7 linked regions of the Homo sapiens genome follow. The protein of the gene in region 1 purifies or fractionates together with the protein of each later gene. This does not show direct contact. Each region holds a gene or a part of one and is shown in the gene's direction. Other genes may lie near its edges. The genes, in order: ESRP1, GPATCH8, PAK6, RGPD8, THUMPD3, RGPD5 and MSI2.

The links.
Region 2: the proteins of ESRP1 (region 1) and GPATCH8 purify together in Homo sapiens (affinity purification with mass spectrometry; 2 studies listed by BioGRID and IntAct, with this or other methods). This does not show direct contact.
Region 3: the proteins of ESRP1 (region 1) and PAK6 purify together in Homo sapiens (affinity purification with mass spectrometry, with the first as the bait; one large-scale study listed by BioGRID). This does not show direct contact.
Region 4: the proteins of ESRP1 (region 1) and RGPD8 purify together in Homo sapiens (co-immunoprecipitation; 3 studies listed by BioGRID and IntAct, with this or other methods). This does not show direct contact.
Region 5: the proteins of ESRP1 (region 1) and THUMPD3 purify together in Homo sapiens (affinity purification with mass spectrometry; 2 studies listed by BioGRID and IntAct, with this or other methods). This does not show direct contact.
Region 6: the proteins of ESRP1 (region 1) and RGPD5 purify together in Homo sapiens (affinity purification with mass spectrometry, with the first as the bait; 2 studies listed by BioGRID). This does not show direct contact.
Region 7: the proteins of ESRP1 (region 1) and MSI2 purify together in Homo sapiens (co-immunoprecipitation; one large-scale study listed by IntAct). This does not show direct contact.

The regions. Positions count from the first base shown.
Region 1 is NC_000008.11:94,643,529-94,647,927, forward strand, and holds part of ESRP1 (epithelial splicing regulatory protein 1), read left to right. Parts: intron 1-2,639; coding exon 2,640-2,754; intron 2,755-4,399. UniProt on the Homo sapiens protein: mRNA splicing factor that regulates the formation of epithelial cell-specific isoforms. Specifically regulates the expression of FGFR2-IIIb, an epithelial cell-specific isoform of FGFR2.
Region 2 is NC_000017.11:44,422,824-44,427,222, reverse strand, and holds part of GPATCH8 (G patch domain-containing protein 8), read left to right. Parts: intron 1-2,730; coding exon 2,731-2,874; intron 2,875-4,399.
Region 3 is NC_000015.10:40,241,362-40,245,760, forward strand, and holds part of PAK6 (serine/threonine-protein kinase PAK 6), read left to right. Parts: intron 1-4,399. UniProt on the Homo sapiens protein: Serine/threonine protein kinase that plays a role in the regulation of gene transcription. The kinase activity is induced by various effectors including AR or MAP2K6/MAPKK6.
Region 4 is NC_000002.12:112,395,278-112,399,676, reverse strand, and holds part of RGPD8 (RANBP2-like and GRIP domain-containing protein 8), read left to right. Parts: coding exon 1-45; intron 46-307; coding exon 308-454; intron 455-1,398; coding exon 1,399-1,578; intron 1,579-1,671; coding exon 1,672-1,755; intron 1,756-4,399.
Region 5 is NC_000003.12:9,372,668-9,377,066, forward strand, and holds part of THUMPD3 (tRNA (guanine(6)-N(2))-methyltransferase THUMP3), read left to right. Parts: intron 1-1,848; coding exon 1,849-1,979; intron 1,980-4,399. UniProt on the Homo sapiens protein: Catalytic subunit of the THUMPD3-TRM112 methyltransferase complex, that specifically mediates the S-adenosyl-L-methionine-dependent N(2)-methylation of guanosine nucleotide at position 6 (m2G6) in tRNAs.
Region 6 is NC_000002.12:109,800,483-109,804,881, forward strand, and holds part of RGPD5 (RANBP2-like and GRIP domain-containing protein 5/6), read left to right. Parts: intron 1-1,300; coding exon 1,301-1,368; intron 1,369-2,949; coding exon 2,950-3,061; intron 3,062-3,496; coding exon 3,497-3,649; intron 3,650-4,399.
Region 7 is NC_000017.11:57,259,311-57,263,709, forward strand, and holds part of MSI2 (RNA-binding protein Musashi homolog 2), read left to right. Parts: intron 1-2,840; coding exon 2,841-2,882; intron 2,883-4,399.

The DNA.
Region 1 (4,399 bases):
GAGTTATTTAATGAGTACAGAATTTCAGTTTGGGAAGATGAAAAAGCTCTGGAAATGGATGGTGTTTATGGTTGCAAAATATGTTAATGTACTTAATGTTTTACTGAACCATACTCTTAAAAATTATTAAAATGGTAAATTTGGTGTTATGTATATACAAAGATACTCTTTGGTGACTTAAAATAGTCTCTTTGTTTACGTCCAATTTTCAAGATGCATGACACTTCCCTTTTCCGAAGCTAATACAGAGTGTGAATTTTTGACATTTAAAATAACTACAAAGAGAGGAAAGAACTATTCTTTAGTATGTCATAATATCCTCATTTGTGTTGGAAATGCTATATCCTAGAAAGGAAGGAAAAAAGAATTAAACATTTAAAGTTGTATTTCTAATCATTTCATTAAAAAGGCTACTTAAATAAGATAACCTTATATCTAGTGAAACCACAATCGTAGCACTCTTCACTTTGTCTGATTTTAAGTCAATGTTCAAAACATTCTTGCATCAAAACAAAAGGGTCAGCCTCATCTTTTACCTTTGCTCATTTTTCTGACAGAGAGAGGATTACAGAGTGAGAGAAATACAGTCTTACTATAGGTAAAATGTGATTTCTCTCCCTGGGATAAATACTGAGGGGCTGTGGGAAAAGGAACAGCAGAGACAACCCACCCAGTGTAGCCAATCATTGTTAATACACTGTCTCTTAACAACTTAAATTAGTTTGAGCTGTAACTTTTTATTGTGGTAGGCAGGCACCGAGCTTGAAAAGATGGAAGTAGAATATATTTAGGTACCTGTATAAGGCAAGGCTTGCAATGAAAGATGTAGACTGACAAATGACGACCCAGGCAAGTAAGTGCAGATTTTATTTCGTTTAATATATTATGACAATTCAAAAAGTTTGAAGGAGTAACTCAAGTTGTTATGTCTTCAGAAAATCATTCCTTTTATACGAGTCTTAGTAATTATTTGACAAAAGGGGAAGAATTTTTTTAAAAAATTAAATGCTAGACTAGTCGCTACATCCTTACCAGAAATAGTAATATGTAAGGATTACTTTTTTACTCCCAAACTCACATGACGGAAGGACAAGACTTAATCTTTTCCCTGTTGGGCCAGAGGAAAATAGCTGTTTTCATTATTTAGGTGGAGTGCTTTGGGTGTAGGAAAACATCTGGAGAAAAATTAAGACTTTTTCCTCAGCCACAGCTATTAGAATTTTGATTAAATACAGAAACTAAAACAATTAATGTTATAGTGAAAGTAATTCTGTATATTCGTTAAAGAAAAGGGAAAATGGCAAAACATGAAATAATCCTGCCACTCAATATATTAAAATGTTTTTCTCTAACATGAATGTATTTGGATATATTCTTCTAGATTTCTGTAGACAAGCATTATTTACAAAGAGCATTCATACGGCGTAAGCCTTTTAGCCTACATTATTTAATAGAACATCAACATTGTTATAACCACTAAATAAAATACTCAGTATTTTAAATGGACACAACAATTTAAACTGATTATTGTTGAACATGTGAGTTATTGTCCTTACAAATAGCTTTTAAATGAGCATTTTTGTAGGTAATAGGGAGGTTTCATGGTTCTTTTGGTTGTTAACTTTTTTAAAAGCTGTGACCATGATGCAGCAATACTGATTTCAAAATACAGCATGAACAGGTCACATCTAGTAAAATCCAATAGAAGGAACTTGGAGAGGAGATATTTTGCATGAACATTTAACATTTAAAAGTCTTAATTTCCTTGATGTTCTAATGTAAAAATGGGTAAAAATTCCCAGCAAATTAACACAATTTCAAAATTTTAAGAAAAATCTGAATTGAGTTTTTAAAAGGATTATCTTTAAAAGTTATCCAATGCTGGGTTATTTTGTTAAGAAAAAAAAAAACAAAGGAAACAATAGTGTAATATTTGTCCAGACAGTTGAGCTTTGCTTCGTAGCCACGGTAGTGGTCCTAATAGCTAAGAACAGCAGGTAACCATTTCTCCTTTGCCTTTGGGATTTGTGAGTTTGTTTTTGTTTGTGTTTGAAGTCTAATTTGAGTTCACAGGTACAGCTACAATATTGTTCAAGAAGACTAATGTGGGACTATTATTTGGCACAGAAATAAGCCTTTTCAGTTAATCAGGAATTTACTATTCTAATCTCACTTATTACTGAAAATATGCATTATTAGAACCCAATAGTTAGAACTACCCAGTTTTACAATCTAATCCCACACCTGTGTGAAAACTGAAAGGGCTGCTAGTGCTGCCTGAAAATACAGATGTTCTAAAATGGTTATGGCTGGAAAAAATTAGTATTAACAGCCAGAAAATATGAAGTATAACAGCACAAATGTATCACAGCTTCAGAATTGTTTTGAATGGAATGCATACTGGAGCACAAACATTGTAATCCACTGCCTTAAAACAAGAGGAATTTTTTTCATGAGACTTGTACATAGGATCTAATATAGAAACAGGACCAACTTTTAAAAATAAATCTACTTTTACATTAAATTTTAAATTTTTCCATTGTAAAATATGCTTATATTCAATTTTTAGGTTCCTAATTGTGAGAGAAACATTGAACCAAATTCACCTAGTTAACATTATCTACCTTGTCCTTCCTCAGAATGTACTATTACCTGAATGCTTCTATTCCTTTTTTGATCTTCGAAAAGAATTCAAGAAATGTTGCCCTGGTTCACCTGATATTGACAAACTGGACGTTGCCACAATGACAGAGTGTATCCTTTAAATCATTACTCAAGAATCATTTGAAAAGATAGTTCCAGAAAAGGTAATTCAAGAAACTTTCAAACATTTTAAATTTTGTCAGCATATGGATAAAATTGGCCTATCCAAAATTTGTTTACTCTGCTGAGAAACTAAAATACAATTATAGACATCTTTGAAAGTGGTTATAATTAATCAGATGGTTGGACGGATTTGGAGATGGATTTTTTGGTGGGGTGATCACATGTAGAATAGGATTCAGTTTCAGCTGTGTAATGTGTGTGTGTGCTGCAGAAAGAACATGAAGACTTTAGTGCAGATTCTAAGGCCACTTTTTCTTGGTTACTGTGATTTTAGGGTTTATTTTGGCTTCTTTGGAATGAAGTCAATAATTTTTTTAATTGGTGGATATATCCCCTTTACAAACTGCTGTTCACTGGTCCCGCTTTTAGCCTCCCCTGAGTTTTTCAAATACAAGATTATGCTGATTATAATAAGCCATCTTTGGAGATGATAAAATGGGGTCTGGATTGTCCCCCACATTCTTTAGTTACCAAAATAATATATTTGATGCATGATATATTGTAAAAGTAATTTTATAATTACAAATCTATAATCATGAATGACCCGTCATCTTACATTCATTAAGTCTTTCAAATGCTAACTAATAAGCAGGCGTGTGCTAATATATCAGATGTAAAGTTGAGTAATTGTTACCTTGAGTGGCTTCCCAAAAGCCACTGTGAGAGTCATCATGAAGTTAAAACTAAGTTAACTTCAGTAGCTTGTGGGTTGTAGATGCTTATTCCCAAACTTTCTCATTCATTTTCAGGAATTAAAACCTGGTTTTTGTGTTACTTCACGATTTTTTTTCCTGATTGAAGTTTGCTCGCATATATTTCATAACTACTTGTAAACAGGTCAAATCCGTTTTCATTTGCCTTCTTCTTGGAGTCAGTTAGCTGGAATTTTGGCTTAGCATGACCAGTAGTGTTGGGAAGAGGGTGGAATAAGCTCATTGTGACAGAATTCTTACAAGAATTTTGTTAAAAAGGTTAGTACACCAGAAAAATTCTCACTGGTTTTTCTGTTGGGTTGAATGTTGTATTAGACAGCTCAAGCTTCCATAACAAATACCATAGACCACGGAGCTTAAACAAAAGAAATTTACTTTCTCACAGTTCTGGAGGCTGGGATGTCCAAGATCAGGGTGTCAGCATGGTCAGGTTCTGGTGATGGCTCTTCCTGGCTTGCAGGTAGCCAGCCACCTTTTCTGGGGGGATAGCAGGAGGAGTTATCTTCTTACAAGGTCACTGCCCTATCTAATTAGACCCCTCCACCCTTTGACCATCATTTAAACTTAACTTCTAAAGACCCTCTCTCCAGATAGTTACATTGGGGGTTGGGCTTCAACATAGGACTTTGGGGGAGGTGGAGGACACAATTCAGTTCTTAAGTATATATTAAACTTTTTAATGTGGATAGTTGGTCTTCCACAAAATAGAGAACCAGAGTACCTACTGAAAAATTAGAAGGCAGTGGAGGAAAAATCTAATAAGCTATCTTAATTTAGAAAAAGACAACTTCTGGCTGGACATGGTGGCTTATGTCTGTAATACCAGCACTTTGGGAGGCTGAGGAGGGAGGATGGGTTGA
Region 2 (4,399 bases), on another chromosome or scaffold:
GCCCCTGTGGTCCTAGCAACTCAGAAGGCCGAGGTGGGAGGATTAATTGAGCCCAGGAGGTCGATGCTACAGTGAACTGTAATTGCACTACTGCACTCCAGTCTGGCCAATAGAGCAAGACGCTGTCTCAAAAAAAAAAAATAGTAATATTAATTTAGGCAATTACATATATATCAACTTATGTATATGTGTGTATATATGTACACATACATATAACTCCATATATACGTGTATGTATTCCCTATATTTGAAAGATACATATAAAATCCTAAGTTAATTCTTTCCTTAGATATCTTATAGTATTTATTGTACCACTGTCTTCTGGAGTTGAGAGAGAGTGTGAGAGAGAGAGAGAGAGAGAGAGAGAGAGAGAGTGTGTGTGTGTGTTGTTGAAGAGATCAAAGGCTGGCCTGATCTTCCCCTTCTTGATTGTTTTTGCCTAGCTGCTGAAAGGAGTCTGTCTTTAAGATTCAATAACTTTACTACACTATTGATTGTCACTGATTGTTCTGGGACCATTTTCATTGTCACACTATGTGCCCTTTCTTGTCCTGTGTAGTTGAGTGGATCTTCCTTTAGTGAGCATGTGCTGATAGCCTTTTTTTTTTTTTTTTTTTTTGAGACAAGGTCTCACTCTGTCACCCAGGCTGGAGTGCAGTGGCGCAATCTTGGCTTACTGCAGCCTCTGCGTCCCAGGCTCAAGTGGTCCTCCCACCTCAGCCTTTCAAGTAGCTGGGACCAAAGGCAAGTGACACCATGCTCAGCTAATGTTTTGTATTTTTGGTAGAGCCGGAGTTTCACTGTGTTACCCAGGCTGGTCTTGAACTCCTGAGCTCAAGCCATCTGCCTGCCTCGGCCTCCCAAAGTGCTGGGATTACAGGCGTGAGCCACCGCACCTGGCCTCAGCCTTTTCTTAGATCTGCCGCAATTGGGCAGAACTTTTTGCTTTTCTCTATGTGCATTCTTTGTACTGCAAATGTTTCCTCATCCACCCTAACCCAAGTTCATCCCTTTGTTCTTCCCAGATCTCAGAAATTCTTGATGAGTGCAAGAGATGTAGGTATATTCATTTCAGAGGATCCTTTTATGTACAGGATATATGTTTTGCCATTTTCTGAAATTGCCACCTTTGGCTTTTTTGATATTGCTTAGCTTTGCCTTGTCTGGCTTCTACTACATTTCCCTCATTCAGGTTCTATAAAGAGCTTAACTTTCCTTCTGTGTGTTTTTCATACTCCAGATCATATCTGTTGCCCAGTTCTTCTGAAAATGCAGTTGGTGGGGTTTTTTTAATTCATAATTTTGTTTTTATGATACCCAAGAAGAAAATCAAAGCTGTTTTCCTATACTGCTGTATTCATACCAGGAACTCTAGTTTTGTTGCTTAAATTTGCAGCCAGGTGTGGGGGCTGACACCTGCAATGTCATCACTTTGGGAGTCCAAGGTGGGAGGATCACTTGAGCCCAGGAGTTCATGACCAGCTTTGGCAGCATAGTGAGACCTCATCTCTACAAAAAATACAAAAGTTAGCTAGGTTTGCTGGTACACGCCTATAGTCCAAGATACTTGGGAGGCCGAGGTGGGAAGATTGCTTGAGCCCAGGAGGTGAAGACTGCAGTGAGCCATGAACTGCACTGTACTCCAGCCTGGGCAAAAAAGCCACAAGTCGTTTAATAGCCAAACAACATGAAACTGTCCGGGACTGTCAAAGAAAATTATTGTGAAGGATTAGATAGGGCAAAAATAACAATGTGCTACACATACTCACTTTTCAGTTTTAATAAGTCTGTCCAAATTAGTTCAGTACTGCCACTCCAGAAAATAATAACCTTTTCTTGTTTACTGATTAAGTAGCTCTTATGGGAGATGATAGAGCTGCTTTGAAACTGTAGATATAGTCTTTGAGATAAGACTTATCTTTTTTAGGTCAGTCTGCTAGAAGGAGTTGCTCATTATGAAAGTAATGCATCTACCCTGCTCTAAAAGTCAAGCAAGTAGTCACTTAGCATTCCTGTCCCTTTCTCATCCTTCTGTGCGACATTAGCAAATGAATATACTCAACTTGCTTTGAGGTATCTTTTAATTGTTTTCTCTTTTTTCCTTTTTGAGATGTCTTTTGATGTCTAGTTTTTAAGTGAAACTGCTGAGGCAAATTGGACTGCCTTTGAGTCAGTCCCACAGTTTTTTGTTGTTGTTGTTTTTCTCCAACCTCCTCTCACATGTAAGAGTCCCACAGTTTTCAATCTCGCTGAGACCAGCAGATAACACATATCTGTGGGTTGGCTTTCCAAGCAGTGCAGCTTATATGTAGAATGACCATAGAATATTTAACTCCATCATTGGCTACAGACTCAGGTAATGCTTTTTTCCTTCGTGTCTGAAAACTAGACTATTAATACAGGTTGTATATCCCTTATCCAAAATGCTTGAGACCAAAGGTGTTTCAGATTTCAGATTTTTTGGGGGTTTTGGAATATTTGCATTATACTTATCAGTTGAGCATCCTTAGTCCTTTTAAACATTTGTTTATTTGAAGACAATTGTTAGTATGACGACACACAGATTACCCACCAAAGTACCACTTGTGTTTCATCCAGCTTTTACTGGTACCACTAAATATTATGAAAAGCCCTTTTTTGTCTTCTCAGATAGACTGTTTTCTCTATAACATTCACTTAAAGTTTTACCAAGTTCATTTTTTGTTTCTTTGTATTTCATGGGTCTTGAAGGATTATGTTGACAAAGAGAAGGCAATTGCCAAAGCCTTGGAAGACCTCAGAGCCAACTTTTATTGTGAACTGTGTGATAAGCAATATCAGAAACATCAGGAATTTGATAACCATATCAACTCCTATGATCATGCACACAAGCAGGTGAGTTGTAGTTACTTGCTAACAGAAGAAGGTACCTATCTATTGTTACAACAATTGGATTTTATGAGTATACCCCCCAAAACTTGGTGTCTATGATTTCTTGTGTCTGCCAATCTTTATCTGCAGTCATCCAACACACTTTGTTTTTTCAGTGGCAGAAATCCTGACATAGACACCACCTCCAGCCCACACTCCCACATATACACTATTTGACAAATTGTGTTTTGTAAATCTTATATAATGTTTTTGCCTTTTATTGATTTCTAAGTTTTTATTTAATTTTGTAATTCAGCTGAGGGTCACTGGGAGCTTTGTTTCCATTTCTGCTCTTAACGCGTTAAACTTTGAAGAGTTATTCAGCAGACTGTTATTTTCAAGTTCCCTACATAAGATTTCATGCTTTATTGGCTACCATTTTCTATTATTAAGTCATTTTGCTATTCAATATACCTTGGAAGTTAGATAAATTTTGAGAAGGAAAATAAAATTAGATGCTATCTTAACTTTAACAAAAAACTCTGTTGCTGCATGTTGAAGAGCTGATAAATGAATTACACTTTGCAGTCTTTGCCCCCTCCCCCGCCGCCACCCCATCATTTTAGAGGAGAAAATTGTACCTAACTAGTTACTGATATACAGAAGATGGCAATAATCCCCCTGGGAGAGTTTAGAAGGGAAAAATAAATTGTTACACCTATAGGACAGTTCTGGCTTGTTAAAGAATTTCAAGCCATTTGATCTTGGGTGACTTTAACATAACTTACTAGGTTTTTGGGGGGTACAATAGTTGTATTTGTTAAACTTGTAAATTTATGAGCATTGGAATGATGTCTCCTAAGCTGGACTTGTTGAACTAAGATTTTTTTTTAGCCTTCATCTTCCACCAACCATAAGATTTCAGTGCACAGGTAAAAGGCAATCTTTGACCAAGTTTTATTCTTACTAGAACTGGAAGAATTTGTAAGCTGGTTGTGGTATTACACTTTTTTGGAACAGTCTCCCCCATTTAAATATACCTAACCAATTTAAGATTCTTCCACTAATGGACTTGTATTCAAGACAGCTTTTCAACTTACTACATACCTTTGGACATTCTTTTCTGTTTTTTTGAGACGGAGTTTTGCTCTTTCGCCCAAGCTGGAGTGCAGTGGTGGATCTCAGCTCACTGCAACCTCCACCTTCTGGTTTCAAGTGATTCTCCTGCCTCAGCCTCCTGAGTAGCTGGGATTACAGGTGCCTGCCACCATGCCCAGCTAATTTTTGTATTTTTAGTAGAGATGGGGCGAACTCCTGACCTCGTGATCCGCCCACCTCGGCCTCCCAAAGTGCTGGGATTACAGGTGTGAGCCACTGCGCCCGGCCGTGGACATTCTTTTAATACATTGTCAGCTTTGCTTGATTCGAAGAAGAGAAATTTATAGAGCATATATATATAGACAAGCTGTATTGGCAGTTACTTTTTTACTCTTTCAAAGACTGGTTTTTCAGGAAAGAAAAATTCAACAGTGAATACTTCTATCCAGGA
Region 3 (4,399 bases), on another chromosome or scaffold:
CTGGTTCTGGTGGGAACTGGGCTGCAGGAGGAGAGGATGAGCTTAGGAGCCGTGTGGCCCCCAGGCCTGGTGGGCCTGGGACTCAGCCCCACGGGAGCTCATCTAGCTGGGGTTGAGGCCTTTGGGGCAAGCAAGGAGTCCCCTCTGCAGGCAGGCTTCCCTGGCGGTTGTCCTGGCCCAGGCTTGGAGGTGGCACCTGGGAGCCCTAGTGACAGAGCGCCTGGTCAGGGAAGGGTCGGCACCAGAGGCAAGCCCTTCTGGGAGCAGCTGATTTGGATGGAAGCTCTGTGCACCTGAGAGGGGGAGTGTGGGGACTGCACGGCCTCTCCAGTGCCCCGAGGACAAACTGATGCTTTGTGAGTGCTCTGGGCCCTCCCGGACTTGCCAGACACAGGGAGGGTGCAGTGGGTGGGGTCTCCAGCCAAGGAAAGCCCGCTCTGTGCACAACTCCTAAGGATGACCAAAAAGTCCCCTGCCCTGGAGGAGCACATGTGCTCAGAGTCAGGAGGAACCCATAAGTGTCTCTCATGCCAGTGAATTCCCACACCTGGCTCCTGGATGAGGAGAATGACCCAGCTGTGGGGGTATCTCATGCTGCCTCACAAAAGGTGACTCTGTGCCTAGGAGTCTTCCATGCATGCAGAGCTGAGCAGGGGCTGCTGCCCAGTTGGGGTCAGAGGGGCGGAGGCTGTCGAGCACTAGGTAGACAGCAGGCCAGCAGCGGGCAGCAGGTTGGGCCAGGAGGGAGCAGAGAGTAGGGGCCAGGGCAGGCTGAGCAGGAAAGGAAAAGGCTGCCTGGGGTCCTGAGGGCTCAGGGAGGACTCCAGACAGCTGGCCTTCTTATGCCAGCCCGCTTCTGTGGGAGAGGCCCTCTGCGTAGGTGACTGGGCAGGGAAGAGGCTAAGACACTGAAAGATTGAATTCCTCACCCAAATGGCCCAGAGATGCCCACCGCACACAGTGTCCTGGGTGCAGAAGGCAGGAAGGACTCATGGGAGGCTGTCCTGTGGACTGAAGCAGAAAGTCCTTCCCGTAAGATGCGCTCGTCGCCCTGAGCAGGAAGGCCCAGGCTGCGGAAGCAGTGCCTGAGACCTGAGCAGCAGGAAGGACACCAGTAAAGCTCATCAGGAGGCATCTGGCCGCCTGCACCTACCGGGCCTCAAGGAGAGAGCTTATTTCTGGGAGCCTCCTTGGTAGAAAGAGGTGGACTAGCCAGCAGGTTGGGGAGGAGCATTGCAAATGGAAGCTTCTGAGGGCAGAATGAGTTCTGAACTTGCTGAAGCCAAGGCTGGCCCTCCTGCCCAGGGCGAGCAGTCTGCCTGGGCCTGGGAAGTTGTCCCCTTCTGAGGAGGTGCCCTCCACCCCACCAGAGCTCAGCCCTAGGGGCCAGGAAGGGCTAAAGCGAGAAGAGTGAGATGTGAGATAAAGGGGACCGTGTCTCTTCCTGGGAGGGTGTGGGGTCCAGGCAGCACCTTGTTCTGGCGCACAGGCTGCCAAGCAGATGACAGCCATGGCCTGACTACTAGGTGCAAGCACTGGTGGCAGGAAGAGGGGGTGGACAAAGCAGGACAGAGCTCTTGCCCTGGGGATGCTCATAGCCCTGCAGCAGAGCAGTGGAAAGGAAAGCTGAGCTGAGCGTGGGGCCAACCGCGCCAGAAACAAGCGGAGCCACAAAGCCACCATCAGCCCCCAGGTGGCTTCGTCCTTTTGCCAACTCTGGGTCCAACTCATCGCTGAAGTTGGCAGCCATGACCCATCCAGCCCAGATAATTTATAAATTTACACCAATACTGGGCAACGGTTCTTAACATAGAACTTTATAAAGATGGACAAAAAAGATAAGTTGAGAATGACAAACAAAGGAAGAAGCAGCTTCTATCTGCAGTTGCAGGAGGAGGTGAAGGCTCGGGGAGATAGACCAGGGCGGGAAGAGGCAGGATGGTGGTTGGTTAACATGAAGTCAGCAGCATGAGCCTCAGGCCCGGTGCTGCCTCTTCCTGGTGACTCGGGCAAGTTACTTCATGTCTCTGGGTCTCAATTTCCTCTCCTGTCCAACAGAGATAATTATAGTACCTATGAGTTAGGGTTGTTGAGAGGATTAAATAAGATAATAAGTGAATGCTCTGAATGGCATGACTGGCACATACGTACATGTTCAGCAAGAGATAACTATTATCACCGTGATGATAACTGGTGTCAGAGGAACAAAGTGCCAGGAGAGACCATACCTTGTTCGGGGGAATCAGGAAAGGCTTCACGGAGGAGGTGACTTTGAAAGAACCCTCCTCTGAGGAGAAACAAAAGCTCTCAGAATGCCCAGGAAAGCTGGGAAGAAACAATAATGCCAGGTCTATTTTTTTCCCAAATAGCATATTGTTTGTCCACTGAGGCTTTCTAAGGAATAACTTGAGACTCCTCTTTCTGGGGTCTAGACTTGGAGGTCTTGAGGACTTGAAGTGGGCTGCCCCTAGTGAAGGGATCGAGAGCCGGGCTGTGGCCCTGGCCCTACTCCTTTTGGGGACTGGAAGCTTTTTTCACATGCTGGTCCTAACTGCATGAGGAACTGTGTTCTGCTGAGCCCCATCTAAAGCATACACTTGGTGATGTGGCAGGCAGAGGGGCCAGACAAGGCCACGGCAGGCTCCTGGATCACTCTGGCAAGTAGCTTAGAAATGCCTAGTAATCGTGGGCAAGGTGCAGTGGCTCACGCCTGTAATCCCAGCACTTTGGGAGGCTGAGGTAGGCAGATCACAAGATCAAGAGATCCAGACCATCCTGGCCAACATGGTGAACCCCGTCTCTACTAAAAAATACAAAAAATTAGCTGGACGTGGTGGCGCGTGCCTGTAGTCCCAGCTACCCGGGAGGCTGAGGCAGGGGAATCGCTTGAACCCAGGAGGCGGAGGTTGTAGTGAGCTGGGATCGTGCCACTGCACTCCAGCCTGGCCACAGAGCAAGACTCTGTCTCAAAAAAAAAAAAAAAAGGCCAGTAATCGTGAGGTTCCATCTCAGAGACTTTTGTTTTCTCTTTTTTTCTTTTTATTTTTTTTTTTGAGACAGAGTTTCGCTCTTGTTGCCCAGGCTGGAGTGCAGTGGCACGATCTTGGCTCTCTGCAACCTCCGCCTCCCTGGTTCAAGCGATTCTCCTGCCTCAGCCTCCCAAGTAGGTGGGATTACAAGCACCCACCACCATGCCCGGCTGATTTTTGTATTTTTAGTAGAGATGGGGTTTCACTATGTTGGCCAGGCTAGTCTCGAACTCCTGACCTCAGGTGATCCGCCGACCTCAGCCTCCCAAAGTGCTGGGATTACAGATGTGAGCCACCACACCCAGCCTGCTTTTTCTACAAAGGATTATCTGTTCTATGAATTTAGGAAAGGTAATCCTAAAGCTTATTCACCTAAGAAAAACAAGGCAACCCCAGAGCATGACAGGCTTTCTTGGGCTGGGGGAACTCACATGTGAAAAAACAGGTTCCCTCATAACTACATGAGAGGCCGCAACTGCCTCAGCCCCAGCAAAGGGACACCTCTGCTGGCCAGCATTTCCTACAAAACCTCATCACGACACATCAGGCAGGGCAGAGACCCAAGTATTCACATAGGGCCAGTGATGACTTTTTTTGACACCTGTGGATTCTCCGTGGCAACCTATTCCCCAAAAGTGCTGCCTCGGTCAGCCAATCCCAGTGTCTCTCTGCCTAGGCAACAATCTCTTGTGCTCTGGTCTGCCCACAGCCTCCATGCACTCAGCTCTTTGGGCCTCTTGCTAAGGGGCTGGAAGCAGAGCTGTGTCCTTCAGGCTGTCAAGGACCTGGTGAGGGATCCTCTGGGTGTCCAGGGAAGCAGGTTCAGAAAGCTCAGTTCAGCTGGTGCTGTATTTTGATCTCTGATCCCAGTGCAGCGGGGACCAGCCTACTCAACTCAGTGCAGATAGCAACAAACCAGTCACCTTGCCCAAGACCTCCTGCTGCCTGCCTGCCTGCCTGGTGACCAGGACTCCTAAAGGCTGCAGCAGCAGCAGCAGAGTTAAAACTTTAAAACCGGGAGGACTGGTTCTGTGGCTCAGCTTCCTGGCCTGGAGAGGCTCTAGCCTCCATTTTCTTTCTTTCAGCTTATGGAATTGTGCAAGAAAGCACAGAGGGTGGAGGGAGCGAGGGGACCAGTTATGCCACAGCCTCCTGCACCACCAGAGCACAGTCTCAGATCAGCAAAGAGGAGCTCTGAGGAGGAAAAGGCTGCCCCAGGAAAGAGCTGGCCATCTCAGATTGCTGTAGCACATTCAAGCCAAAGGGAGTCCCCGGAGGATGTTTCGTCCAGCCCCCATAATTTTAGAGCGGGAAACAGAGGTCCAGAGAAGGAAAGTGGGTCCTGAGGCCACACAGCTAACTAATGGCAG
Region 4 (4,399 bases), on another chromosome or scaffold:
TTTGAATCTATAAAAAGTGTTGTTTCTTATTGGAATCTTGCACTGGTAAGTAGATGCAGTACTTGAGCTAAAAGTTGTATTTATTTATTTATTATTTTTTTTAAAAGACGGGGTTTCTCTGTTGGCCAGGCTAGAGTGCAGTGGCACAATCTTGGCTCACTGCAACCTCTGCTTCCCAGGCTCAAGCGATTCTTGTGCCTCAGCTCCCGAGTTGCTGGGATTACAGGCATGAGCCACCATGCGTGGCCAAGCTGAAAGTTTTTTGTTTTAAAAAGCTAATGATTTCATGAAAGCACTATTTGTATAGATTTTTCACAGGAAGGCAGAAGACATTGAAAATGATGCCCTTTCTCCTGAAGAACAAGAAGAATGCAGAAATTATCTGACAAAGACCAGGGACTACCTAATAAAGATTATAGATGACGGTGATTCAAATCTTTCAGTGGTCAAGAAAGTAAGTAGCAGGTTGTTGTATGTACGTTCTTACTGATAACCCACTGGTCAGTGTTTTTGCGTTGGTCTTATATTTTGGTAATTTCAAAAATACTCAGTAATATGTTGTTATTAATGCACAGAAGGGATGCGTGTGTCTAAATGCTTAGATTTGCTTGCTTTGTCTTAGGTTTGGTGTGTCTTTTTAAACTTGGGAATCTAGGTATATGCTCTTAAAAAGTACTTCTTGGGGAATTAGAAAAGATTTCTAAGATAAGACATTGATTTTGTTATCTTAGCAGTGTAATCAAAACAAATATTATAACCTCAGGACTAATTCTTAATGAACTTTGCTGAAATTGAAAGTTGTTGCTGACAACTTAAGAGCATTTCTTCTCATCGTCATCAGCCATTATGAACGCCCTTGTTTTCTTGCTGTCAGCTGTTTGAGATTGTCATGATGATGTTAAATTATGTTCAGTCTTCTGAGTGTTTTGTTGATTAATTTGTGTTACTACTCTTTTATTAGGATTTATGTTGTCTGGTGTATTGTAGCATCTGTATTTCTGTCACCATTGAAAATCAGTTAGAAAACATCAGTAACTTATTTTGTTCACTTGGAAAAGCTTTCCAAGTTAACATTCCTCTACAATTATCATGGTTAACAGAAGTAATAGAAAGAGCATGGACTTTAGAATCAGAAGATGTTAGACTGTACAACACTTTTCTGTGTTCCTGAAGAAAAAAATAGAATAAAGACAAAAAAATAAAAATAATAATACAAAACAACAGAAAAACAAAGAAAAAAGATAATTAAAAAACACTTTCACGTGTATTATTATTTAAAGTGTAAAGTGCTTATTAAAGTGACAAAAATGTAAATAAGATAAAATATATCATTTTAGAGTTTTTACTTTTGGAATTTTTTGCAAATGAAAGCCCTTAATTAATGTCTTTTATTTTTAGTTGCCTGTGCCCCTGGAGTCTGTAAAACAGATGCTTAATTCAGTCATGCAGGAACTCGAAGACTATAGTGAAGGAGGTCCTCTCTATAAAAATGGTTCTTTGCGAAATGCAGATTCAGAAATAAAACATTCTACACCGTCTCCTACCAAATATTCACTATCACCAAGTAAAAGTTACAAGGTAAACAGGAAAGAATGGAATCATTTCATTGTGAAATTGTTTCTGTTCTAAGTGTTTTAAATGCTGTTTTGTTATTTTTATTTTTTTTTTCAGTATTCTCCCGAAACACCACCTCGATGGACAGAAGATCGGAATTCTTTACTGAATATGATTTGCCAACAAGTAGAGGCCATTAAGGTAAGTCACTTAATTTCTCTAGCTGTACTTTTTATTCCAAGATTCCTTCCCTGGCTACTCTCTCACTTTTTTTCTGAAGCTGGTCAGAATGTCCCCTTGCCATCCAAATAGTATGGCAAGGGGACATTTTGGTCTTTTTTTTTTTTTTTTAAGACAAGGGTCTTGTTCTGTTGTGCAGGCTGGAGTACAGTGGTATGATCACAGCTTACTGCGGCTTCAACCTCCTAGCTCAAGAGAGCCTCTTGGCTCAGCCTGCCACGAAGCCAGGACTACAGACAGTCACATGCCACCAGGCCCAGCTAATTGTTGTATTTTTTGTAGAGATGGGATTTTGCCATGTTGCCCAGGGTGGCCTTGAACTCCTGGCTCAAACAATCCTCCTGCTTCAGCCTCCCAAAGTGCTGGGATTGCAGGTGTGAGCCACTGTGCCCAGCCTACATACCTCGGTCTTGACCCTTTACCATATTTTGTTTTGTTTTGTTTTGAGATGGAGTCTCACTCTGTTGCCCAGTCTGGAGTGCAATGGTGTGATCTTGGCTCACTGCAACCTCCACCTCCCAGGTTCAAGTGACTCTCCTGCCTCAGCCTCCCGAGTAGCTGGGATTACAGGCACCCGCCACCAGGCCCAGCTAATTTTTGTATTTTTAGTAGACACAGAGTTTCACCATGTTGGCCAGGCTGGTTTTGAACTTCTGACCTCAGGTGATCTGCCCACCTTGGCCTCCCAAAGTGCTGGGATTACAGGTGTAAACCACCGCACCCAGCCCTTTACCATATTTTTGAAAGTACTTTATGTGTCTCTCTCCTCATCTTCCACAAAATTTGAGACCTTCAAAGGTAGAAACTGTTTTATTTAAAATATAAGAGTTCCTGACACAGAGAAGGTTCCCGAGTGATTGAAGTGCTACAATGTACTAATCATACTCTGGTCTATGAGTTCATTCCCAGATTAGCTGTGGATTACATGTGTTTCAAATGTATAGCTAGGAATCGAAAAGTGGTCTGAGCTTCAAAAAGTCTTACTATATTTTAATACTTCCATATGAATTTGACTTAATTATGTAAGGAAATAGTTATGTATATATATCTTATTTTAACAATAGGGTTCAAAGGAGCTTGACTTTTTTGGAATTGGAAATAAAAGTAGGTTCTTTCATGTTTATCAAGCAAGAACTAAATTACTCATACTGCTAAAGTTACATCAAGGATATGCTGATGTGTGGCGATTATTACAGTGTGATCAGCAGCATTTGCAAATTAAGAGAATACTATTTGGTGGGGAAGACATTTTTGAATTTGCACAAAAATTTTGAATGTTAATTCTGTGTAGTCGTGGCCTATGACAATTACATACAATTTTGACTTAACATACAGGTTTCAGGCTCCCAACATTGTATTCTGTGGAAGTATAGTGGAGCACTAGTCCATGAGCTTGAAAAGCTTGGTACTAGTACTGACTCTGCCATTAATTAATGATCTTGGGCCAGTCACTTCCTTTGTGACTGTTTGGCTTCTTATCTTTAAAATGAGAGAATTATTGAAGCCAGTTCTCATCACACTGAATGTTAAAAATTACAGTTACAGCAGTGATTGCAAATTCAAAGCTCTGGTGCGGATACCAACAGTGACTATAAAGTTTTCTAGGTGATTCCACTAGTTTCTTATTTCTTGGATGTGTATGTGTAGCATCTGGACTAGGCACTGTAGATGGATGAATGGGGGAAATTTTATTTAGCTTGAAAATTGAGATAGTTTTGGACCTCATGGTTAGGTCTTTCTGGGAAATTTTTAATTGAAACACTTGTAGAAACAGAAAGCAGACATGCTAGATCTGTCCCTGACCTCACTTGTTAGAACTGATCGGATTCCTGGGCTGATACAGAGAAGTTTGAAACTTTTCAAAATTTACCTGTTTTCTGATACCACTACAATTTCTTTGGAAAAAGAATTTCCTGTTAAGTGTCTGTTTTGTAAGGGGACATTTTGTAGGTTCTAGGGTGTTGGGTATGGTGCTGTCATTTAGTTTTCTTCAGCAGAGATCAGGTAGCCACATAGCTACACTAGACGGCATTGGATCTATCTGCCATCTTGTCAAGGCAGCAGAGTTGTGTTAAGAAAACATTTTTGGAGTCAGATGTGTTTCAAATTCCAGCTGTTATTCCCTGCATCCGTTTCTCTCATTTTAAGATAGGAGCTAATATTGTTTACCTAACAGTGTAGATGGTGTAAAAATTAAGAGTTTAAGTGCATTGGACGTATTATTATATACATAATAAATTCTCTGCAGCTACTACTTTTTTCCCTTTCCTGGTGGAGCATTTGAACATCACCTTGAGAATTAGTTGTATTTTGTTTGAACACAGGGTTAAGTGAAAAGCTAATTTGGGGAGGTGATTTGGAATGTCAGGTAGTCCAGGTTGCAGTGTAGAAAGAACACACTGAAAGGATGGTCAGTGTAATGTTAGAGGACTGTGAAAGTTGGGGAAAGAAGTTTAGTTTGTAGGTACTTGTTTTTTTGAGCAGGGAATTGTCTTGGCTGGAGGTGAACGTCAGAAAGGTTAATGTAGGCAAGTGTAGAATGGAAATGAAGGTGTGATCATTTAGGAGGTTATTTGTTTAGGTGAGAGAGTTAATGAATTAGGTT
Region 5 (4,399 bases), on another chromosome or scaffold:
CCTCTTTCTTAAATTCTGCTAGATTTCCAAAGCCAGGTACCTCATTTTAGTATATTTACTTTCCTTGGTCTTAATCCTCTTTTATCTGGGTGATTGACATGTGAACCATAGGAACTAAAGTATTTAAGTCTCTGACACCTTAAAACATCTCTAGCAGCTGATATATTTACCAAAGAGTCAATTTCCGTTGCTTTTGGGACACTTGAATCTGGGGCAAGTCACTGATTCTAACTTTTTTGTGCATGTCAAATCAGGAGTCTAATTCCCCATTCCTTTTTTTCCTCATACACTGCCTTGCAAATGAATACGTGGCTCACACCTGTAATTCCAGTACTTTGGGAGGCCTTGGCAGGCAGATCGCTTGAGCCCAAGAATTTGAGACCAGCCTGGGCAAAATAGTGAGACCCTGTCTCCACTAAAAATAAAATAAATATTTTAAAAAATAAAATGAATAGGTTAACCAGAACAGTGATGTCTAAAAGTTAGCAAGGTGATTCAGAGGAGTTTCTGGAGCCGTGCTGCATTGGTTTAAATCCCAGAGGAGGCTGGGTGTGGTGACACACACCTGTAATCCCAGCACTTTGGGAGGTCAAGATTGGAGGATTGTTTCAGGCCAGGAGTTCTAGACCAGCCTAGGCGACATAGGGAGACCCTGTCTCTACAAAAAATAAAAAAAAAATTAGCTGAGTATGATGACAGACACCTATAGTCCCAGGTACTTGGGAGGCTGAAGTAAGAGATTGCTTGAGCCCAGGAAGTCCAGGCCACAGTGATCTGTGATCATGCCACTGCACTCAATCCTGGGCGACAGAGTGAGACCCTGTCTCAAAAAGGGAATTCCTGAGGAGCTGTCTTTGTGCCTCAGTATCCTCATTTATAAAGGGAATAATACCTAGCTTAGGGGATGTGAATATGAGATGAGGCCATGTATGTAAAATGTGTAGAATAGTGCTTTGCATTAGGAAGTGCTGTATGAGTATCAGCTGTGCTTCTGCTGTGGTTAAGCTCAGGAAGTCTTTCAGTGAAAGATTGGGGAACATTTTGGTTTAGTTTAGTTCACTTTTGAGACAGGGTCTCGCTGTATCACCCAGACTGGAGTGCAGTGGTGCAATCATGGCTCACTAAAGCCTTGACCTCCCAGGCTCAGGCTGTCCTCCCACCTCAGCCTCCCGAGTAGCTGGGACTGTGGGCCTGTGCCACTGCACTCAGTGTAATAAGACTTTTTATTTGAGACTTTACCAATTTTTAAAACTTTTTTGTTGAGATACACTTTGCACCCCTTAAGTACACAAATCTTAAGTTTTCAGTAAGTTTTTACTTATATACACGATGTGTAAACAGCATCCAGATAGAGATACAAACTATTTCCAGTACCTCGGGCTCCCCTTGCCCTTTCCCAGTCAGTACCCACTCAAGGCAATCACTAATCTGACTGCTACCACCAAAAATTCGTTTTGCCAATTTTTGAACTTCATATAAATGAAATCATATAGTATATAGTTTTTTTCGTTCATTTTAATATCTATTATTTTCTTTTAATTCACTATGTTTATTGGCTACAACCAGATTTCACCCCAATTTTTATAACACAAACATATTTTGAAGGCTTAGAGGTTTTTTAATATGTATTTTTTAAATGTCTTAACTTTTTAGACAGTTCTGGGCTGTGGTGCGCTATGCCAATCAGGTGTCTGCACTAAGTTTGGCATCAATATGGTGACCTCCCAGGAGTAGGGGACCAACAGGTTGCCTAAGGAGGGGTGAACCGGCCCAGGTCAGAAAAGTCTTATTACTAAGCGCAGTTTGAACAATCCTAAAACTATTTTGTCTTGTTCCACTTTGCTATAGGTTCTTTTGAACATCCATGATAATGAAGTCATTGTGGGCATTGCATTGACTGAAGAGAGTCTCCACCGAAGAAATATAACACATTTTGGACCTACAACTCTTAGATCAACTCTTGCCTATGGGATGCTCAGGTAAGAAAATGAGTTTGCCATCCAGCTTAAAGTGGCACCTTGGTTTGAATGTTCCCTTCAAAATACTGATTTGTGTGTATGTGTGTTTGAGGTACTGTGTTGGAATAGAGTGGATAAAGAATAGAATGGAAAGCTAATGATCTATTTCTTTCCCTTCTATCCAATATTGACTCCTTGTGATCTGAAAATACTGCTTAATAGGTGGCTCAGTTTTCTTTATTTCTTTTTTTGAGACAAAGTCTCACTCTGTCGCCCAGACTGGACTGCAGTGGCGAGATCTCAGCTCACTGTAACCTCTGCCTCCCGGGTTCAAGCGATTCTCCTGTCTCAGCCGAATAGCTGGGATTACAGGTGCCTGCCACCACGCCCAGATAATTTTTGTATTTTTTTAATAGAGACGACATTTCACTATGTTGGCGAGGCTGGTCTCAAATACCTGACCTCAGGTGATCCACCCGCCTCGGCCTCCCAAAGTGCTGGGATTACAGGTGTAAGCCACCGCGCCCGGTTTTCTTGATTTTAAAATGAGAGTAATAGTTTTCACCTGCCTCTTGAATGAGGTTACCACATTTCTGTTTAGCAAGGATATGTGTGTTGGGAGATAAGAGTAAATTTTGCTGTTTCATTTCTGTGCAGTGAAAAAGATGAAAGCAGAGATTTTTATGTGTATAACGTGTAAATGAACAGAAAGAGCTTTTACTTATATTTTTAAGCTTTATACTCACAGCAACTCAGGAATCATCCTAGAATTTTTTGCTTTTCAGAGTACACGACCTATCTTTCCTTCTCCTTTGCCCTTCTCTCTTTTATTGGGTGCTTCTTTCCACCACTTGAAAATGTTTATTTTCTCTAAAGCTTCTGTTTTCCAGATGGCAAAATGGATTTGATGTGAGACTTAAAGGATTATTAGTGAGGATTAAATGCTGAAGCATATGCAAAATACCTATTATATACAGTGCCTGGTATGTCCTGGTAGTTAAGTCCAGTCATGCATCACTTAATGACAGGGATACATTCTGAAAAATGTGTCATCACGCAATTTCATCATTGTGCGAACCTCATGGAGTGTACCTACACAAATCTAGATGGTGTAGCCTACTACACACCTGGGCTATGTGGTATCTCCTATTGCTCCTAGGCTACAAACCTGTACAGCATGTTATTGTACTGAATATTGTAGTCAGTTGTAACGCAGTGGTATTTGTGTATCTAAACATAGAAAGGATAGGGCAAAATATGGTATTATAATTACTGCATTCATATATTTGGTCCACCATTGATTGGAAGATTGTCATGCAGTACACGACTGTATTCCTTCTCTTCCAATCTTTTATCTTCCTAACATATTAATTCAATGACGATAATAGAAAATTGGGCCCATTTGATAAAGGAAAATCTTCTAGTCTTCATTAATTTAACAAATATGCATTATCTACTGCCAGGCATATGGTAGAAACCAGGGATACAGAGAGGGTGTTATTTTGGGTGCAAATATTTAAAACCTAAGTAATCAAGTTTAGGATAAAAAAGTGATAATTGTGCCAGAGAGGGGTTTATTGGAAAGATAAAGAGAAATCTTGGGGATTCTACAGAAAAACTGAATGTTGGTTCTCAAGAAGGGTAGGAACCACATCTTGGAAAACCACCAGAAATGTAGGCAGCCATTTTTATCTCCCCTTAGAGCCTGTGGACTCTTGTCTCTTCTCATCTACATGCTTTCTCATCTAAATTTATGTATTTCCAATTCCAAACGACCAACCCACACTGCCTAGGGCTTTTAGCTCTTTGTTCCAAATTCCTGGAAGAGAGGATCTGATGGACATTGTTTTGGTCAGATATTCACCCCTGACCATCAGGAATGGCTTGGAGTACAGGGTGCTTACCCCCTCAAGAGGGTTGCCAAGGATTCTATTGCCATGTGTTGAGGAGTAGGAGCAAGGAGATAGAGCAGGACCAATGTTACAATAAGAACCCACTATTAACCCCCAAGAATCTGTCTTGTGAGGGAGATAAATAGTTATCATACATGCGATAAGTCCCACACCAGCACATGAAAAGATTAGAAGAACAAGAGAAGGGAAGAAACCTACTGACCTGTTTCAGGGTGGGATGCTTCATAAAGAGGATAACAGTTAAGCCACTAACAGTAATGCCTCTAATCTTGAATCTGTTACCTACTAGTTTTGTGTCCCTGGGCAGGTAACTTCATGTTTCCTTGCATCAGCTTACCTTTAAAATGAGAATAATGATAATTATCTAACAGGGTCCTTACTGAGGATTCTGTGAGATAATGCATGGAAAGAGCTTAAGTCCATGCCCAGGAAATACTAAGTGCTCAAAGTAAAGCATTTTTTTTTCCTTTTTTTATTACCTAGTCCCACAGAGCAATTTTTTTATATCAAGATTAGCTTTAAATTCAG
Region 6 (4,399 bases), on another chromosome or scaffold:
TAGTAGAAAGGAGGTTTCTGTATGTTGGCCAGGCTGGTCTCGAACTCTTGGCTTCAAGTGATCCACCCGCCTCAGTCTCCGAAAGTGCTGGGATTACAGATGTGAGCCACCGCACCCAGCCTGGTGTGCATCAGCATTTTGGACTTTGGAGTTTATGTAACCAAGGATCCAGGCTGTGGACCTCGTTTATTACTTGAAGAATTCAATATTTATTTCTGCCTTTTTGACTCCTTGACTGTAAAATACTGATCTGATCTGTAGAGAGAACAGTACATGGACCCGGGAATCCTCAGTGCCTTAATAGATCCTAAGTACTTACTTATTCTTTCCCATAGAGGCTTACACATGGTAGGAGAAGAGATTTCTGGAATACCTTTCCTCCCCAAAGAAAGCTGGTTTCTTTTGTTTGTTAAGTGAGAGAGTGGTACCACAGGGTTTCCAAGATTTCCAAGGCTGATGAAAATTCTTAACTTCTGTTGTCTGCTTGTCTTGCTTTCTTGAATTTATTTTTTGTATGTTATGTATTTATTATTTAGAGAGAGGATCTCCCTGTGTCACCCAGGCTGGAGTGCAGTGTTACAGTCATAACTCACGGCAGTGTCAACCTCCTGGGCTCAAGTGATTCTCCTTCCTTGGCCTCCTGAGTAGCTAGGAACACAGGCATGCTCCACTATGCCTGGCTATTTTTTTCCCCCTGGAGACAGGATCTTGTTGTGTTGCACAGGCTGGTTTCAAACTCTTGGCCTCAAAGCTAGCCTCCCACCTTGGTCTCTGAAAGTGCTAGAATTAAATAGAATTAAAGGTGTGACCAACTGCACCCAGCTTATTTATGATGATGATGATGATGATGATGATGATGATGATGATGATGTTTGGGAGATGGAGTCTCTGTCGCCCAGGCTGGAGTGCAATGGCACGATCTCAGCTGACTGCAACCTCTGGCTCACTGCAACCTCCACCTCCTGGGTTCAACTGATTTTTGTGCCTTAGCCTCCTGAGTAGCTGGGATTACAGGCACCCGCCATCATGCCTGGCTAATTTTTCTATTTTTGTAGAGACGGGGTTTCACCATGTTAGCCAGGCTGGTCTCAAACTCCTGACCTCAGGTGATCCGCCCACTTCGGCCTCCCAAAGTGCTGGGATTACAGGCATGAGCTGCTGCACCCAGCTCTATTTTTTGTTTTGTGGTAGGAAATTATAAAACATGGAATTATGCATTTGTCAGGCTTTAACTACTTTTGAAAAAATGTTGGAAAATATTTCTGTATGAAACGTAAAACAACTTTTAATTTTTTTTTAGAAGTCAATGAAAGGATTCTATTTTGCAAAGCTGTATTATGAAGCTAAAGAATATGATCTTGCTAAAAAGTAAGTACAAACCGTAACATGTATTCTTTTTTTTAAAATCAATGCCTTTTCTCATTTTCTTCTTTGAAATAGGTAAAAATATGTCCTTAGTAGTTCTTCCTAAGTGTATTCTGGAATAAGGGATTTATCACTCAGACTGATGCTAAGGACCAGCCTAGATTCCATTGAGATTGAAACTGTAATTAGTGTTTTCTGCATGCTGCTGCTTTATACCAAGGGCAAGAAATTGTTTGGCTTAAAACACTTTTTCTAAAAATTGTCTTCTGTTGGAGTAAAAGAGGACCATGCCTATATCTTAATTTGTTTTTGGTTAGATATCTGATACCTTAATCAGATGGAAAATAGCAATGAATAAAAAATTAAACTGTAATTGTAAGGCAGGAGAATAGCTTGTATAAAAGATCTTTAACTGACACAATATGTGATGCTCTAAGGCTCTATCCTAGGGATGAGAAGCTTGGTGATTCTGATTTCCTGGCTGGGAGTGGATTAAAGCAGGAAATTAAGAGGGAGGCAGGCTTTTTTTTTTTTTTTAGGCAGTATCTGTCTCTCTTGCTCCGGCTGGAGTGCAGCAGCTGGCTCCATCTTTGCTCACTGTAACCTCTGCCTTCTGGGCTCAAGCGATCTTCCCACCTCAGCGCCCCAAGTAGCTGGGGATACAGATGCGCACCACCACGTGGACCTGGCTAAGGTTTGCATTTTTTGGTAGAGACAGGTGTCACTATGTTGCCCAGGCTAGTCTTGAACTTCTGAGCACAGCAGTCTGCCTGCCTCGGCCTCCCATAGTGTTGGGACTACAGGTGTGTGTTACTGCTCCCAGCTGGGAGGCAGGCTTTTAAAGGCATCCAAAGGAAGATGGAAATGCTGGTAAGAAAGGAAAATGGTGGTACATAAATTATGTAACTAGCAGCACTGTGACTGTTAACTCTTGTACCTTTTTACTGTGAGACTTTAATCCCTTAGTTTAGGTCTGGCCTAATTTCTCTGATCGTAATACTGTCAAGGAACCTAGAGGATATTTACTTATTTTAGTTGTTACTTGATTTGAGAAATGGAAATTTCCTGTATTTGGTACTGTAATTAGTAATTTTTCTTCTGTTCGATTTTAGCTGGATATAGTACTGTTAGAAATTACTTTCTTGCTTAAAGGGTAAATGTATTTCCCTTTGTTGTTTGGGAAATTGTTGCTGTTTAGTATTTTGCATTATGATAACTTTAAAAATGTTTATTATAATCACTTCTAATTTATTGGCAAAACTGTTAGTGCTTTATTAAAATGTGATCAGGAAGAAAAAGCAATCTATATGTTCATTTCTTATGTGTGGTTAACACTGGAGAAAAATTTGGTAAATGTGACATTTAATGGTAAAATGAGTATGTGGTCAACTCTATGTACGTGTTTTTAAGTATTACCCATTTCTTTCTATGAATACTTTTGAGTTATCTGCATAAATAGTGGTAGTTTTGAGTAACAATATAAACGAGTTTAGTGGTTGCTTTGGTTTAAGATGTATTCTTCGGTTAGCATTTAAAAGTACAGTTCTAAGTTTAATTTACTTTTGTATTACTTTTAAAAAACAGATACATATGTACTTACATTAATGTGCAAGAGAGGGATCCCAAAGCTCACAGATTTCTGGGTCTTCTTTATGAATTGGAAGAAAACACAGAGAAAGCCGTTGAATGTTACAGGGTAAGTTATAAGATTCAAATATAGCCTTTGCGTAGCCAAACACATGATGCCCAGAGAAATTTATATAAGTAAGTCAAATATATTTTATGAATATCATAAAACAGGCATTGGTATCATAGTACAATTATGTGATACAGCTTGGAACAGATTTAGAATTGTTTAACACCTATAAATTGTAAGTCTAACACGGTCAGAAATGGTGTTCTTTTGTGTTTTTTGCATTCAAATGACACAAATATAATTTTTATTTGATTCATTTCTAGAAAATTCCAAGACACTTTTATTTTAACACCTTTAAAGTAACATGTTTTCTCTAGAAGTAGAATTTTTTAAGGGTTGGAGTGATAATTTTTAACCTTTATGTATAAGTATATATACTCCTACATACATACATACAATTTATTTACTAATCTTTAATTTCTTTTCTGATATTAGCGTTCAGTGGAATTAAACCCAACACAAAAAGATCTTGTGTTGAAGATTGCAGAATTGCTTTGTAAAAATGATGTTACTGATGGAAGAGCAAAATACTGGGTCGAAAGAGCAGCAAAACTTTTCCCAGGAAGTCCTGCAATTTATAAACTAAAGGTAAACAAACAAAACATAAAGGGAGAAAACTTAAGACATAACCATTTCTAATATTTGGAGTTTAAATTACTTTTCAATAGCAAACCTTAAGCTCAGGTGTTTGTGTTTCCTTTAACATTTTTCTTTTAAAAAGTGTATTAAAACCTTTCTGAGCATCTACTGTCTTATTAGGCATTGTTATACTTTATAAGTGACATCTCATTTACCCTTCTGGAATAATTAATATTTTAGGGATTTTACAGTTTAGTAGCTGTAAACTAAGTAGAGCTAAGATTTACATTAAGTTCTGTCTGATATACAATTTTTGCTTCATTAAGTGAAAATTACCTACAGGATGACAATTTAGGGATATTTTAAAGAAGAGTTTTCTGATAACTATTGTCTGAAAGTAGAAGGGATTGTATTTTGAGATAGTAAGGTTTTCAAGCAAAAGATAAAAGGTGGTTTCTGTAGTATATAAGACGTAATTACTAAAAATGGTAGGAAGTTCTTGCTAGTGTGTTGACTGGTCCTGATATTCTTTATAGAGTAAAATATAGTTTACTAAGTAACTGTTCTGGAGAAATCTACACAAATATGTTTGGCAAACATTTAAAATGTATATTGTAATGTTTTATATATTAATGTATACTTTATTGTGTGTGTACAATATAAAATTATAAATGTATATTTGCCTTTAGCTTCCTCCTACCCCCATCATATATGTTTCTGATAGAAATTTAAAAAATTTTAATTTTGAAATAATTATAG
Region 7 (4,399 bases), on another chromosome or scaffold:
CCAGAAATGGGGCTCTACTTCCATCCGCCTCTTATGAAAGTGAGCAAGACATTCCCTACCTCTGGGTCTCAATTTCCTCTTCTGTAAAATAAGTGGACCAAGGTGATCTTTCAAGCCCCTTTTGGCTTTAACATTGAATGGAAGAGAAGGAAAGCAAATAAAGAAACCTGGCAACCTTCGGTGCACTTGAATTGATTTTGCAAATTCACCCTCTTTCTCTGATCAAAGAGATCAGGAATGCGTGCCTTCTCCTAAGAAAGAAACCCACCTACACTCTTAGTTGCTTTATTAATTGTCCTGGACTTGTCATAGCTTGCATGCAGCCCAGCCTTTTGTACTTTTAGATAATTTAATTTCAGAAATGATTTGTAGGATGATAACAGATGTCTGAAAAATTTTTCTCTCCTTGATTTCGTGGCTAGCCATTTCAAAAAGCTAGTGAAATTAAAGAGGAAAATCTTTTCAAGGCAAATTTGGGAATTTATCATCCACCCCCTCTTGCTACCTGGGTGGGAGAAACAGTATTTGGTTTCTGTGGTGGCTGGTGGGTCATATTCCTCTGTATCAGGTGCAAAGCCTGCAGTTTCCCTCTCTGATTGTTTATAGACATGTTTTGGTCACTATTATTTAGTGTAACCTAGCTTTTGACTTTGTTTCAACGTTCAGTGCAGGAGGCAGAAGCGGTTGGTTTATTGACATGGAAACGAGGATCTTGTTTACTGTTACCTTAAAAGCTTTGTTTAGGTAACGGCCATTCACATCCAAAATAGTACCCTAGTCTTTTCCTAGAGGACTTGTAGATACAGTAAGTAGAGCTGTACCTAACTAACTAATGTTTTAATTTTTGGTAGTTTTCTTTTTTGTTTGTTTTTTAAAAAATAGTTGACAGGGATGTGCAAAAGGTTGGGATTTGCCATGCTTAACTTGACCCTTCCTCTCCTTCAGAGATCTCAGCGTGTAAACTTTGCACACTGAGGAACTTCGATCATGATATAATGCTCTGATACGGCCACACACCATCCAGGAGTTCTGAATTGGCTTTTTCGTTTTGTGATTTAAATTTTCTTTAGTACTTCACTTTCTTCATTGCACCTTACTTCTTCCAGCTCCTGGCACCTCCCTCAACATACCCCACACCTGTTACCCCATAAACAAGGTGATTTCTGATTGCAATTGTGTGCCGGCCAACTAAAAAAAACACCCTCTGGGGAGTATTTATAAAAAGACACCTCTGTCTTACGTACGTCAACAGAATGGAAAATCCACACCTGTTGTATTTCTCTTGTAGACAAGCGCTAGTCAGTGCTGGACACACCTGTAGATGCAGTAATGTTAATCTTTATGAAAGGGTAGTTTTCTAGATCAGAGATTTTTGTCTATTTTAGTTTTTGAAAAGTAATCTCTCATTTCTCAGGTGATGTTTAAAGGTAGGGAATGCAATGCAGACTTTTATTAGGTCTTTAAGCCCCCGTAATAACAGCAGGAAATCCTCATATGTCTTTCTGGCTGGGACCCTAGGTGATGTAAGTCAGGGAACAAATGAACTATCCTCCGTGCTTCCCACTCCCCACCCCCACCTCCCTACTTTCCTCCACAGCATTACTCTTTTCTCCCCTGCTCCTTCTCATGGCAGAAGTGAAAACAAAGCTCAGATTTACTTTTTAAAAGGAAAACATTTTAATATGAAAGCCAAAGCCTGGAAATAAATAACTGGTAGCATGTTTATACTATCTGTGTTACATTTTTACCCAAAGATTTGTGACATTTAGAAATTCAATGAAAACCGACAACGGGAATATTTTCACATTTCTTTCCTCCTCTTTTTATCTGTGCAGTCACTTTTTTCCTCCCTCACATCAGCCTGTTAGATTCACATGCTTCCAGGAGAACTGTTCTGAGCTGTACAGCTAGACCCTGATTGAGCATCATGCGTTTTGCAAGTGTGTGATTTGGACTGGAGGATGTTTTTCCACTCGGATTGAGGTTGGGGTAGGGGAATTCCCTACTTGTTGCACTAGATTCTGACTACTTCTTGTATTCAGTAACTTTTTTTTTTTTTTGGTGCCCTCCCCATGATGGGATTTCTTTTCTAATTTGGGTTTAGGTTGCTTATAGATTTTTACTCCCTGTTGTTTTTAAAATCCAGGTGGATTTAGCTCACATGCTTCATTTTCTTTACTTCAAAAAATTATTTTTTATCTTTTGAGGTATAGCTACAGAACAGATGATCTTTTTGGTTAATCCTGGGTAACTTTACTTTTGCTAAAATGAATTAATTAACTCAAGCAGAGCACTGTGTTGGATGTCTGTGGGGAGTTTTTGGATGTTGTTGATTTAAAAAATTTTTGGAAGCTCCTTTCCCTCCTGTGTTGTTTAGTTATCATCAGGGAGAAGAAATACCATCCAATTACCTACTGCTAGAGAATACTTACATTTAATTTTCAGGTTATGATTTTTTTCCCAATGATAATGATGCTCCCATCTTTTCTCCCAGCCACGCATAGCAAATTAGATGTAGATACCATTTAATATTCAGTGTCTGGAAGAAGAAGCCCTTGCCTAAATAAGAATTACATGAGATCTGGTTTATTAAGAGCATCACACACTGAAATGCATGGTGGGTCATTTCAGAAAGGCTAGCTAGCTATGTTAGTTACCTGATCTGTTGGAGGGATGGTTAAAGTTGAGATCAAAGTTTAAGAAACTTTTGAGTTGCCTGAGAAGTTACTAAAAGCTGGATTATAAGCCTGAGAAATGAGTGATTAATAATTAGGTGATTAATCATATATTTTTTCCTTAAAGTACTTTATTGACTCCTGCTTTTCTATTTTTTTTCCCAGATTGACCCCAAAGTTGCATTTCCTCGTCGAGCGCAACCCAAGGTAAGTAGGAGAATAAACAGTAGGATTTTAGCACTCAGAGATGATTGCCAAGAATTTCAAATTTCAAACAGCATTGGCCATGAACTGTTGAAGCCTGGTATTCACTGTTCCTTCGGGGTATCAGGACAGGCTGGGCAAGTAGTCCTGTGAGATAACCATGCGTCTCTAAGTTAGCCATCCCAAGGTGGCTTCTGAACATCCACCTGGGGGCAGGGACAAGTCTGATGCTTAGTGGGAGGACGTGTTTCCATCGACTGCAGTATTTTTTGCAAGGATTCTATTTGTTTTTTAAGCATTTCCAATATCATATCAGGAAAAGTCGAACATTTCCTTGTGACTCTTTCGGAGGGTACTCTTTGAGGCTTTACAACTTGGAGTTAATGCAGAGGAGTAGAGTTTGACTAAACAGCTGATCCTTTCTTGGAAAAGACAACTTCTTAGGCCCATAAAGCCTTAAATCTGGGAGGGCAAGCAGTGGATATCTTGGTTTTAGGTTGGTTGGATAAGTCAGGGCATACTTGAAACCAACAGTGCTTCTTATTTGTGCAAGTGCTGGTGCCTGGGTGGAGAAGTCCTGAAAATGTTGTAACCTTGTAGGAGTGGCACTACAAGACTTGCTTAAAGAATTGAGATAGGGCTTCACTTTTTTAGAAGTGTGTCGTTAACATAGTTTTCACTGAGCTTGCCAGGTGTGGCTATGAGAACACAGTTGCTTGAAGCCTAAGGTTAAATTGGAAGGGCTTATGGCTTACATGTTACATTTACACTTTTTAGTTACTATTTTTCTTCCTTATGTAGCACTGGAAGAAATGCTTTTTATGTATCTTCGGGATTTGTCATTCTTTTAGGGAAAGGGGAAAAGTTGAAGCTTCTAAGTCGGAAAAGGTTGTGGCTTTAGCAAATTCAGTTTATTTCTTTATGCACAGTCTCCCAGAAGTGGAACCTTTTAATCGTGTAAAGAGAGGAATGGTTTTGCACATTAGTATAGAAAAAGTTGGTGATTGTGATGGTACTTTGAGAATTTCAGGTCTGGGGCATACCACTTGATTGATTGATTCCTTCCTTCCCTCCTTCTTTCTCTCCCTCCCTCCTTGTTCTCTTCTCCCTTTTTTAAAGATGGAAACACAACTTTTTAAGTAAATACAATGAAATATTTTCTTCAGGCATTTTTTTGTAATGCTTAAGCAAATGATAGGAATTAATGATTAGGTTATTTTTGTACTTAGCACAAACTTTGGAATTGCCCTTATTGTTTTAGTTACTTCCCAAACTGTCTGTGATCCTTCACATTTCAGAGGGCTTCCCAGAGTTAGCAGTATTTCCTGGGTTTGGAGGAATTGCTGTTTCTTCCATAAGTGTGAATCTTCAAATTTCCAGGTTAGTCATTTGATCACTCAGAGCTTGGATCAGATTACCCAAGAGGGAAGCTGGAAAAATCCCTTACTTGGTAAAACCATGGGTTTGACCTGTTTTTCTCTCCCCTTTGTTGTCCCCCTTCCTTAACTTTGTTTTTAAAT